3 separate regions of the Homo sapiens genome follow, and regions 2 and 3 are each linked to region 1. Evidence: fine-mapped expression QTL. A gene starts in region 1. Each other region holds a variant in brackets. All regions are shown on one strand. Distances are between the middles of the regions.

The links.
Region 2: its variant is fine-mapped to the expression of INPP5A in fibroblasts (GTEx, PIP above 0.99).
Region 3: its variant is fine-mapped to the expression of INPP5A in tibial artery (GTEx, PIP 0.96). The same link has a PIP of 0.9 or more in whole blood.

Annotation. Positions count from the first base shown.
Region 1 is chr10:132,535,692-132,539,813 of GRCh38, forward strand. It overlaps INPP5A (inositol polyphosphate-5-phosphatase A), which reads left to right and starts at 2,096. Exons shown (of 16, transcript NM_005539.5): 1 at 2,096-2,480. The coding sequence starts at 2,406. It overlaps LOC107984282 (a long non-coding RNA gene), which reads right to left and starts at 1,232. Exons shown (of 4, transcript NR_158224.1): 1 at 1,035-1,232. RefSeq lists a silencer at 1,117-2,216 and an enhancer at 2,997-3,046.
Region 2 is chr10:132,480,240-132,484,361 of GRCh38, forward strand. No RefSeq gene overlaps it. Among named protein-coding and RNA genes, the nearest start is that of LINC02870, 37 kb to the left of the region's middle. RefSeq lists an enhancer at 133-732. The variant C/T (reference allele first, on the strand shown) is at 2,072.
Region 3 is chr10:132,605,094-132,609,215 of GRCh38, forward strand. It overlaps INPP5A (inositol polyphosphate-5-phosphatase A), which reads left to right. Exons shown (of 16, transcript NM_005539.5): 2 at 2,822-2,863. Among named protein-coding and RNA genes, the nearest start is that of INPP5A, 69 kb to the left of the region's middle. RefSeq lists an enhancer at 3,010-3,511. The variant G/C (reference allele first, on the strand shown) is at 2,400.

The sequences.
Region 1 (4,122 bases):
AGCACGTTCCAGGGATCAGTGACACCCCCACATTTGGTTTCTACTAAGGGTACCCTTAGCATGTGCTGATTTTGTTAAAAAGAAAAATAAGCGACTACATCAGTCAGCTTCAGCTGCTGTAGCGAAATATCACAGGCTGGGAGGCTGAAACAAGACTTTTACTTCTCACAGTTCTGGGGGCTGGAAATCCAAGATCAAGTTCCAGCAGCGTTGGATTTCTGGTGCAGGGTTTGTGGCTGGCTGGGGTGAAGCTTCCCACTGTGCACTCACACTGCCACTTCTTTTGCACATGTAAGGGTGGGGACAGCACTGAGCCCTTTCTATTAAACACTAGCCCTATTGCACGACTTAACATTAAACACCAGCCCTACTGCACGACTTAACATTAATTACCCCCGCTAGCCCACCTCCGAATACAGTCACATTGGAGGTTAGGGCTTCAACCCATGAATTTGCGGGGTGGGGTGGGGTGGGGCGGGCGGAATTCAGTCTGTAGCAGGCACCTACTGACTAAAGTAGACATTGGTTTATACATCAAATGGATTTTGCTGGAGTCCTGCTCAGCGGTGGCCGTAAGGAGGAACCCTGGGGGTGTTAACACAAGCCAGTGATGCGGCCTCAGCACAGGCCTGGGGCCCGAGCCTGCAGCACCATTCCTGCCGCCCCGCCCTGGCAGCAGGTGTCTTCCTAGAACAGAACAAGCCCCTTTTGATGTCATTGGGCATTGCCTTGGCGGTTTACTCAGAAGCTGGAGGCTAGCCTCGCTAGAGCCCATTGCCAGGCCCTGACCGCCCCTAAATCTGTGTCCACAAAATCCTCCGGAGTGCCTGCTCCGCATGGTGGCCACTGGCCACACAGGGCTGCTGAGCACTGGAAGCGGCCTTGTGAGCTGCTGCCAAGAGGCAGGTGCCCGTGCAAAGCCTTCCTGTGAAGGAATCTCACTGAGGTTGTTAAATTCTGGTTACATGTTGAATGATGTATCTATCTATTGGGTTAAGTAAAACGTATTGTTAACTTTGGCTATTACTTGTTACCTTTAAAAAATGTAGCTACTGGAAGCTTTAAGATGACAAATGTGGTTCTCCTCCTCCATCTACAGGCATGTCCCGGTTCACGGCGGCTGTGTCCCCGCGGCCTCAGACCCAGGGTCCAGCCCATGCTCTGGCCCCTCCGGCGGCCAGGATCAGCATCGCTGCCCCGGGGCCCGCGCCGAGCCGGCTGCTCCTCCGTGCTCTGCGCTCCTGGGCCCGCACCAGCCCCCTCCCCTGGAGCCCCCTTCGTCCCTGCGAGGGTTCCCTGCACGCCCCGCGCTGAGACCCAGCCTGGCCCGGGCCGGAGCCCTCCGCGACGTCAGGATGCGCCTGGCCTCACGCCGCCTCCCCTCCGTCTTCTCTGGGCCGCAGCCGCTCCTCGTGAGTGAGGTCGCGGCCAGGGAGCCGGGTGGACGCGCCGGGAAGCTGCACGGTCCACGCTCCGTCTGCGCGGAGAGCCGGGCGCGCGTGGCCCGGCCCCTGCAGGCGCGACTGCCGCCGCCCCGGTGGGCTCCCCTCCCCCGCACGCCCGGCACGCGGCTGGACGACTGCGGCCGCGCGGGGGCTGGAACATCCCCTCAGAGCCGCAAGAGAGCGCACCCGCCGCCGGCGCCCGGAACCCAGGGCCCCTTTAAGAGGCGCCGCCGGAGCAGGGCCGTGACGTCATAGAAGTGCGAAGGGCGGAGTCTGTGCGCAGCCGCGGCGCGGGGGGCGGGGCGGGGGCGCGGCGTTCTTGCGGGCCTGACTGACAGGAGCGCCCTCCGGGAGCGACCAGTACTAGGCCGCCGGTCGCAAGAGCGCCCCGCGTAGGCCCCGCCCCGAAAGGAGGCCCCGCCCCGGGGCAGGCCCCGCCTCCACAAGGACACCAAGTCCCGCACAAGCCACGCCCCCCGCAGGCCCCGCCCCACTCTGTTCAGATCTAGGCCCAACTCAGGCTCCGCACCTCAAGGCTCCGCCCCCAGCAAGGCTCCGCCCCAGGCCCGGCTCCACCCCGCACAGGCCCCACCCCGAGTCAGGCTCCGCCCCGCCCAGGCCCCGCCCCGGGCTCGGCTCCGCGGGGCGGGACTTGCCCTCAGCCTGAGTCGGCGGCGGCTGCGGGAACTTTCCCAGCGGATCTAATGGCTGCGCGCGGGCCGCTGTGAGGCGCGGCGGCGAGCGACGGGCGCGGGGCCGCGGAGCAGCGAGCGAGCGAGCGAGCGCGAGGCCGGAGCCCCGGCCAGGCCCGGCCGACCCGCCGAGCCCGCGATGCGCCCCGGGGCCGCCCCCCGGCGCAGCTGACGCCCCGCGGCCCCGCGAAGACCCCGGCCGGCCGGTCCCGGAGGAAGCGGCCGCCGCCGCCGCCGCCCAGCCCAGCGCCCGCGCCGCCCGGGCACCATGGCGGGGAAGGCGGCCGCCCCGGGCACCGCGGTGCTGCTGGTCACGGCCAACGTGGGCTCGCTCTTCGACGACGTAAGTCCCCCGTGCCGGCGGCAGGCCCCAAGCCCGGAACCCCCGACCCTGACCCCGGGGTCCCGAACTGCAAGCCTTGGACCCTGGACCGTGAACCTCCAGACCCAGAGGCCCCAGACTCTGATCCCTGTACCCGGGACCCCAGACTCCTGTCCTGATTCCCAAGTCTGGGAGCCCAGACCCCTGTCTTGATCCCCAAGCCCGAGACCTGAAGACCTGGGCCCTGAATCCCCGAACCCCATCCTCCAGACTCCAGCAGCTGACCGTTGACCCTGGGACCCTGCCTCTGAACTCCTGTCTGCAAATCCTGACCTCGAAACTCCAATATTAAAACCCTGTCAGAACCCCTGTTAACAGTTCCTGGAACCCAAACCCCAGAAACCGGGTCTGTGCGCACCAAACCCAGCCCCAGCCCTGATTTCCGAATCCTCAGAACCCTGGCCCTGGAATGCCCATCCCCAACCCTGGCCCTGAACCCCAGGTCCATGGTCACTGGAACCACAAATCCTGACTGCAGAACTCTGGTTACAGAACCTGCTCTCAAACGTCTGTCTCTGGTCCCTGAGCCCTGGACCCCAAACCCTGAAACATAACCACAAACCCTAACCCAGGAACTTCTGACACAGGGCTGTGGCCCCAACCTCCTGTCCCTGTTCCCCAATCACTGAATTCTAGCCCTAGAATCCCAGCCTTCATACTGTGGCCCTTTGCCTCTAAAGCCAATCTAGCCTGACTCTGAACCCTGAATTTCAACCTCAGGCCCCAGCTTATGGCCCTGAACACTTGTCCTTGACCCCTGAACCTGGAACCCTGGTTCCAGAATCAGGCCCCAAACCCAATTCTGGACCCTGCCCCTAACTCTGGTTCCTAGATCCCATCCTTGGCCCCTTCCTCCAACAAGCTCCTGCCCCTGAATCCTGAATCCTGAATCCTGGTCTTAAAGCCTGGGCCTTGAGCCTGCAGAATTCCCAAACCCTAACCCTTGACTCCCACCCCTGGCCCCTGTCCTCTGAGCCTAGGCCCTCCACTCTGGCTGTCAGCCCCAGCTCCTGGATGCCTGGGTGCCGGCCTCACTGTCTGTCTGTCCCTGCAGGGCCAGAGGGTAGGGTGCCCCCATTTAACCCTGCCACTTAGTATCTCTTTAGTTCGTAAATAAGGGAAGTCTGTAAAGCACTGTAGGACTTTATATTTCTTGTTTATTGAAGAAAAAGATGCTGAGAAGCTCTTCAGGGCCAGAAAGGGGATGCTGACTGCCTATGGCCTTTACCTTCTAGGGCCCCTCCCACCCAAGCCTCATTCCCACCCAGGATCCCAGGGTGCCCCCATCTCTGGAGAGACCAGGGAGCTGAGGCCCAGGGCGCACTGGGAGCTCCCCAGAGGCAGGCCGGTCTGACCTAGTTTGGCGTTTCAGCCACGGTGCCACCCTGCTGTTGGTACTCCTGCTGCCAACCCAAATAAAGCAGAGTGAGGCTCCAAGTGGCCCAGATGGAGGCCGTGGAGCCACGGACGCTCCCTCCCTCCCTCCCTCCCTCCCTAGGTGAACAGTGGGGCACCGCACCAGCTTTATGACGGATGTGTGCCACTGATGCACGCGTGGTTTCCATTTCAGGAGGAGGTCTTGTGTCTTTGCTGGCAGCAAGCA
Region 2 (4,122 bases), 55 kb before region 1:
GTGGGGGAGAAGGGAAGGCTCTTCTTTACAGACAAATGTCAGCTAATAGGTGTAGATGGCAGAAAAAAGTGCAGGCAGAGAGGCAAGAAACGATGAGAACCTCCGTATATGGAAGTGCAGGCTGCCCTGAGGGAGACCGAGGAAGGTCGGAGAGCTTGGGCAAGACTTGAAGGAGAGTCTAGGTCAACTGGAGCCGAGACACTCTCCCTGCCTGGGGCACCGGGGAAGTTGGCATCCTTCTGAGTCGTCGAGCAGTGCCCTACTGAGACACTGAGCTGTGGTGTAGGGTTTCCTAGCTATGTGGACAAATGAATGGACATCCCTCCCAGGCTTGGCACCCTGGCAGTCCAAGGGGCCTTCCTGTTCTCAAAGTACATGCAGCACTTGGGAAAAGTAGCTGCACATCCCACAGGAAGTGAGTGAGCTGACTTCAGTCAGTTCATGCTGTAGCAACAATGTTTCCTGACCAGGATGCAACGAGCTAACAGTCAACATGAGATCTTACAACTGATCTTAATAATTTGAGATAAGAAGAAGCTTTCAGGGGCTGGGCGCGGTGGCTCACGCCTGTAATCCCAGCACTTTGGGAGGCCAAGGTGGGTGGATCACAATGTCAGGAGATCGAGACCATCCTGGCTTACACGGTGAAACCCCGTCTCTACTAAAATTACAAAAAAAAAAAAAAATTAGCCAGGTGTGCTGGCGGGCACCTGTAGTCCCAGCTACTCGGGAGGCTGAGGCAGGAGAATTGCTTGAACCTGGGAGGCGGAGCTTGCAGTGAGCCGAGATCACGCCACTGCACTCCAGTCTGGGCGACAGAGCCAGACTCCATCTCAAAAAAAAAAAAAAAAAAAAAAGAAGTAGAACCTTCCAAAATTACCATTTATTTGGAAAATAAAATATACACTTCTAAAAGCCGTGAGTTAAAGAATAACACATGATAGAAATGAGAAATGCTTAGAACCAGATTACAGTGGGTGCACTGCCTATTATGTATGAGTACATGAAACTCTCCACGTACATATGGAATATTGCAAAGTGCAACTAACTCACTCCAGAAATTAGACAGATTTAAAAGAAGGAAACAATGGAAATTAATGAGCCAAGCCTTCAACGTAAGTGACAAAAAGAACAAGAGGCTAAAGCAATAAAAGCAGGACAAAGATACAAATATGAGCAGAAACTCAGGAAATAGAAAATAAAAGGCAAATCGGGTGGATCAAAGACAAATGTTGGCTGATTATTAGAAAGATGAAGGTGACAGACGCCACTGGCAAAAACAGAGAGAGAGAGAACAGAGTCGGTATTAGGAATGAAAAGGAGAATCATCAAACACAAGCAGAAGTTTAAAGATAAACATATCAGGAACCAGTCCGTTTGAAATCTTTTCCAAAACAGGTAAGATTTTAAATGGATACATTCCCAGAAAATTGTGGAAAATGAATACATTCGCAGAAGATCATGACAAAAAATTGATTCAAGAAGGAAGAGATGACCTAATAATTCTACAACCATTAAAGACATTTAACCATTGATTTAAAATCTCCTGCAAGAAAACTCAGGTTGACAGGTGTGGGAGACCAGAACGCGCCTCCTGAAAAGCAGGCCTGTGGGGCTGAGGGCCTCTGCGAGGAGCAACGGAGGTAGAGCTCCCGGTCCCCCCTCGACACAGGACACGGGCTTACAAAGACGAAGGAATCCTGCCCCCCTCTACTAGGGAGAACAAAGGTTAACCACTGAAGACAGCTTCAGACCCTCATCACCTGCACCTGAAGATAGTTCCAGAATAATCTGCACCAACAAGCTTTATGAAGGAGCCTTTATCTGACATTTATTCGCTTTTCCTCAAGTTCCTGCCTACAGAGACTCCAAGTCTTTCTTTTTTGCCCAGAACTTCTCTGAAAATCTATCGCTCTTTGTTAAAGATGCTCTACAAGCTGGAATTCAAAGCCGCCTCGTTGAGAGTGACTCATGCCCTAGGCATCTCCCACACATACGTGAAACACACATGTTAATAAGCCTCTGCTTGTTTTTCTTCTATTCATCTCTGTTTTGTAAGAGGGATCTGTTC[C/T]GACTAAGAACTCACAGGGTTCTTATTTTCCCCTGCCCAGGGTTGCACAGATGTGTTCTACCAAACTTTCAAGGAACAGAACGTTCCAGTCTTTTACAAACTCTTCCTGAGAGTAGAAAGGAGGGAGCACTCCCTGAATCATTGTGAAGCCATTACAATCTTTAAAACAAACCAGACAAGAATAGTCCAAGAAAAATCATGTTTTAGTACAATCTCACTCCCAAACAAAGACGTACAAACCCTAAACAAATCATTAGCACACTGAACTCACGGCGTCTATTTTTAAAAGGTGATGACACTCATGACTGTGTTGGGATTTGCTGGGATTATCCCAGGAATGTGAGTGATTTAGACCGAGAAGATCGATAACTTTCATTCACCGCATGAACGGATTAAAGGGGAAGACAGGCTCATCCCAGTGGATGCCGAAAATCACTCAACACAACTCAAAACACACTCAGGAAAAAAGGAAGAGACTTTTCAAACTTAGAAATGGGAAACTTACCAAAAACCTACAGCAGACCAAAAATGGGGAAACACCGGTGCATCCCCTTTAAAAATCCAGAGCCCAGGCTGGGCACGGTGGCTCACGTCTGTAATCCCAGCACTTTGGGAGGCCGGGGTGGGCGGATCACGAGGTCAGGAGATGGAGACCATCTTGGCTAACACGGTGAAACCCCGTCTCTACTAAAAATACAAAAAATTAGCCAGGTGTGGTGGCGGGCGCCTGTAATCCCAGCTACTCAGGAGGCTGAGGCAGGAGAATGGCGTGAACACGGGAGGTGGAGCTTGCAGTGAGCCGAGATTGCACCACTGCCCTCTAGCCTGGGTGACAGAGTGAGACTCCGTCAAAAAAAAAAAAAAAATCCAGAGCCAAGGTGGGAATACTCTCCCCTCAGCGGCACGGCAGAGATCCAGCCGAGGTTTAACGCAGGGCAGCCTCACACCTTGTCATTCACTGGAACAGCAGTGAAGAGAACCAGGATTGGAAAGGAAGAACATAATTCATAAATTCCAGGCAATGATTATTACAAAAACAAAATGAATCTGTAGAGAAATTACTAAAAGAAAGTTAACAAGGTAGCCGGCTTACAAGATCCACATAAAAAGCCATTGTATTTCTTAACATCAGCAAATAGAAAACATAATTCAAATAAAGATAGTTACAATAATAATAATGAATTATAAGAAGTGACTCGATATAAAAATGGACAAAGTATTTGATAGCCATGTTCCTCAGAAAGATATACAAACGACCAATAAGCTCAGGAAGAGATGCTCAAGGTCATTAGTCGTTAGGAGAATGCAAACAGAAACCCCAATGAGACACCAGGTCCTACCCGTGAGGACAGCTGCAAAAAGTAATCCAAGTAGTCCTAATACAAGGAAAATAACAGCAGTTGGTGAGGGTGTAGAGGAATTGGGACCCCCACAGATTGCTGGTGGGAATGTAAAATGGGGCTGCAGCTGTGGACAGCAGTTTGGTGGTTCCTCAAAAAGTTAAACAGGCCGAACTCGGTGGCTCACACCGGGAATCCCAGCACTTTGGGAGGCCAAGGTGGGAGGATCACTTGAGCCCAGGAGATCAAGACCAGCCTTGGCAACATAGAGAGACCCCGTCTCTACAAAGAAATAAATTTAAAAATGGCCAGGCGTGATGACAGAGCCCTGTAGTCCCAGCTACTTAGGAGGTTGAGGTTGGAGGATCGCTTGAGCCTGAGAGATCAAGGCTGCAGTGAACCTTGGTAATGCCACTGCCCTCCAGCCTAGGTGACAGAGCTAGAACCTGTCTGAAAAAAAAGTTAAACAGAATTACCATATGATGCAGCAATTCCATTCCTAGGTCTATACCTTAAAGCCATATGTCGTATAACTTAATTAATTAATTAATTAATATATTATTTATTTATTTTGAGACGGATTCTCACTCTGTCGCCCAGGCTGGAGTGCAGTGGCGCGATCTCGGCTCACTGCAAGCTCCACCTCCCGGGTTCACACCATTCTCCTGCCTCAGCCTCCCGAGTAGCTGGGACTACAGGCACCCGCCACCG
Region 3 (4,122 bases), 69 kb after region 1:
GGGAGATCCCTGAGGAGGGAGTGGGAAGGGACTGGGGATGGGGAAGAAGTGGATCCCCCAGGAGGGAGTGGGGAAGGGGCTGGGGATGGGGAAGAAGTGGATCCCCCAGGAGGGAGTGGGGGAGGGGCTGGGGATGGGGAAGAAGTGGATCCCCCAGGAGGGAGTGGGGGAGGGGCTGGGGATGGGGAGTGGGTGGATCCCCCAGGAGTGAGGGGGAAGCAGCTGGGGATGGGGAGGGGATGGGGAGGGCATTGATCCCCCAGGAGTGAGGGGGAAGCGGCTGGGGGATGGGGAAGGGACAGGGAGGGAGTGGATCCCCAGGAGGGATGGGAAAGGGGCTGGGGATGGGGAGGGGATGGGGAGGGTGTGGATCCCTTGGAGGGATGGGGAAGGGGCTGGGGATGGGGAGGGGACAGGGAGGGCGTGGATCCCCTGGGGGATGTCCTGGAAGTGACACAGTGGCACTGAGGCCAAGGGAGGCTGGTGGGATGGTGGGATGGTGGGATGGGGCCCAGGAGGCCCTGGGAGCTTCCAAGCTGGGGTCAGCCAGGCAGACGCAGCAGCGCCACGCGGGCCAGAAAGTGGCCCCTGGGCAGGGCCCCATGGTCACCGTGGCCGTCACAGTGGCCCCGACTAGTGTTGGGGTGTGTGCCAAAGGCAAGAACTGAAGGCCTTGAGGGCCTTGTCTTTTTTTCACGTTTCTTCTCTTCCTTCTTTGGAGTGTTTTTGCTCTCATCTTTCATTTAGACTTTTGGTCTAATTATTTCACAGCCTTTGAGTGCCTCCTCATAAACAGTCAGCAAACACGGATGTCTTTGTTTAGAGCACCGTGTTAGGACTGTCTGGGCTTATTAACCTTAGTGGATCCACAGTCAATGTTGGGGGAAGTCATATCCACGGTTTAAATGAGGTCATGACCCATGAATTGGGCTGGAGCGCGTGTTACTGGGGCGAGGTGCACACAGTGAACGGTGTGTCCAGGTGTCCGCTGTCACATTTGTGCGTTTGGTGTTTAGGGTGGCTCCTGGGCAGGGCTGCTGGGCACGCAGCTGCAGCTGGATGTGGGGCTGGGACCCTCGATGGGGACTTGCTGGTAGGAGCTGGGGCCAAGGGAGGCTGTCCACGTGGGCTGAGGGTCCTCAGTGGCGGGACAGCGGCGTGGGTCAGTCGCCTCCCCTCCTGCCGGGTCCTCAGTGGCGGGACAGCGGCGTGGGTCAGTCGCCTCCCCTCCTGCCGGGTCCTCAGTGGCGGGACAGTGGCGTGGGCTGATGGCCTCCCCTCCTGCTGGGGCGGTTGCGTGCGTCCCACGAGGAGGTCCCTGGACCCAGAGGGCAGGGCATGGGGGTGCTCAGAGCCGCAGTGGGCGATTCTCTCCCTTCGCGTGTGTGTGTGCTGGGGTTGTGTGTCCTTGAAGCCTGGAGCCAGGGTGTTCTCGGCTCGGTCCTGTGATCTGTGAAGCTCTTGTTTCTTGTCAGGTTTTTTATTTTTCATTAATTTATCTAAAATTCAGTCTTCCTGCTTTTTAGGGTTCTTAGACCCGTCAGCAAGTGAACGGAGGAGCGCGCCTGGTGTGTGGCCAGCCTTGCGATGCTGTTGTGTTTGCGTGGGCGCGGAGTCTGGGCCCAGCTGCACTGGCGGCCTGCACGCCTTGGCCCCATGCCCACGGCCACGGAGGCTGAGACCAGGGCAGGGGCTTTAGTCCCGATGGGAGCGGGGGCAGGGCCTTGTTTATTGTTTTTAATCGCGGCAAAAACCCACAACATTAAATTTACCACCTTAACCGTTTCCGAGTGTGCAGTTCCTTAGTGCTAAGTACATTCACGTTGTTGCACGGATCTCTAGAACTTGTTCTCTCGCAAAATGGAAACTCTACCCTTTTAGATGCTGACTCTGTCCCCTCACGGTGGGCGATGTTGGAGCTGGGGTGCTTCCTGAGCGTGGGCGGCTTGTGCTGAGTGCTCGCGCTCAGCCTCGTCCGCGGTGACCTCCCTCCTCTTGGGTTTGAATGGCTGTGCTGCCCTTGGCCGGAGCTGGCACAGAGCCCAGGAGCAGCCAGGTGGCCTGGGGCTCAGCGGAGCGGTCAGGGTGGAGAGCGACTGGGCCGTCCCTTCTCCTGAAGCAGTGGCATTTTCAGGCTTGCGCTTAGCTCCTCCGATTCTGTCCAGGAGCTTCCTGGGGCCTGGGTCTCTGGCGGGGCTGGAGTTTCCTTGCGTGTGTGCACGTGTGTGCACGCCTGTGGCATGTGGTAGGTTTTCTGTTGATGGCTCTAGCAAGTGCTTTCTGAAGATTCTGACAGTTGTGACGGACTCTATAAAAGCCCCTTGCTCTTCACCCCAAACACACAGAAATGCCATATGCGACCATGATGTTTTGTACTCCACAAAGCTCAGCTTTGTCTA[G/C]TGCCTGTGAAGGGGCTTTGGCTCAGGCAGGGGCGGGTGTGGAAAGGTGCCACCGTCTTGCTTGTTGAAGCTGGGTTACTGGCTGAGCCGTCTCTTCCCTGGGAGGCTGGAGGCTGGAGCAACACAGAGCCTTCCCCTCCTCGCCACCCGTGTGGGGGCTGCGCGACGCTGCCCGAGCTTTCCTGAGACAGAGTGCATCGTGCACCATGTCCCTGGGACAGCACAGAGCGGAGCCCCCACACAGAGCGGGGTCCCCGCGTGGGCCTGGGGTTTCCCCGTGCGGGTGGAGCTCCTCCATGCGGGGTGGGCCCGGGCTGCGCCTCTGCTCCTGCCCCACGTTGTCTTCACAGGAGCTTGTCCTGGCTCTGTTTAGGGCTGTGCCATTGGTCTGACTGGCTTTTCTTTTTCTTCTTAATTTACAGCCAGAAAACCTGCAGAAGAACTGGCTTCGGGAATTTTACCAGGTAAGAACCACTGAAACGTGTTCTTTTGGATTCATTACTTAGCCAATAAGGTGCCTTTTTGCTTTGGCATTCCTCCATGGAGTCTGGTGTGTCTATGGGGAGCGCAGGCCTGGGCTGTGGCTGGGTCTCTCGGCTCCGCTGCCTGTGCTGGGCAACATGTTTCTGTGTCACAGTCGGTCCACTGCCCGCCTGCCGGTGAGCCTGGCCAGATCCTCCTCGGGCTCACTGTTCACATTCCGGCTCCCTCCCCGCTCCCCGCGGGGTTCAGAGAATCAGAGAACCTGGGGGCTCCCTCCAGGGCTGGGTGAGCATCCCCAGTGGGGCCGTGGAGAGCTGGCAGCGAGGCTGGGTGTGCTCCTCACCAGGTCCGGTCCGTGCAGCGCACTCTGTGCAGAGAGTGGGTGCTGGGCTGGGGGAGGCGACCGGTTGGAGGGTTTCGGGCTGGCACTGCCAGGCCGAGGCACGGACCCCCCTGTCTAATATGGGGCCGGTGTTTATGGAGCCCGGTACTGTGCTGTGCTCTGGTGTGGACGCTGCAGATGCCACTGTGAAGAGACAGGCTGGTGCCCTCGCAGGTCTTCATGGAAGGAGCCACCTGGGGCCTGTGGCCGAGCATGTGTGCCTGTGGGGTGGCGCCAGAGGCCTCTCTGAGGACTGGGTGCATGGGGGAGGCCAGGCAGGCGAGGAGGGCAACGTGGCCATGGGCATGACGGTGGCCAGGCTCGGCTCCAGGGGCTGGTGGTGAGGTCAGCTTCAGGATGGGGTGGCCTGGACGGTGGAGCTGCTCACATGCTCAGACCCACGCAAGGGCTGAGCCCGGGACTGAAATCCTGTTTCAGGTGTGTTTGGCTGCTGATTGGAGATGGGCTGGGGAGGCCAGAGTGGAGGCCCAGGGGCCCTCTGTGAGGGCATGGGGGTGTGGGACCTGGGGGGTGGCCCGACCTGGGCCTGAGGTGCTGGGCCAGAGGTGGAGCTGGGACAGCCAGGAGGGCTGGGGACCTCTGTGCCCTCGGGCCTGTGTCCTGCCTGCCAGTGCTCCCATGTGGTGAGGCTCCCAGCATGCAATGGTGCTCTGTAGCCGGCATCCAAGTCCCCCCATAGGGACAACGGCGTGTGTGTGCACGTGTGTGCGCATGTGTGTGCTTAGCACCTATGTGGTGAGGAAGCCATTGTTCTACAGGGACCTGATAAATCTCTCTCCGTAGAGTCTTTGGTCAGATGTGCAAATGAGAGACATCTTTCCCTTTTGAAAACATATA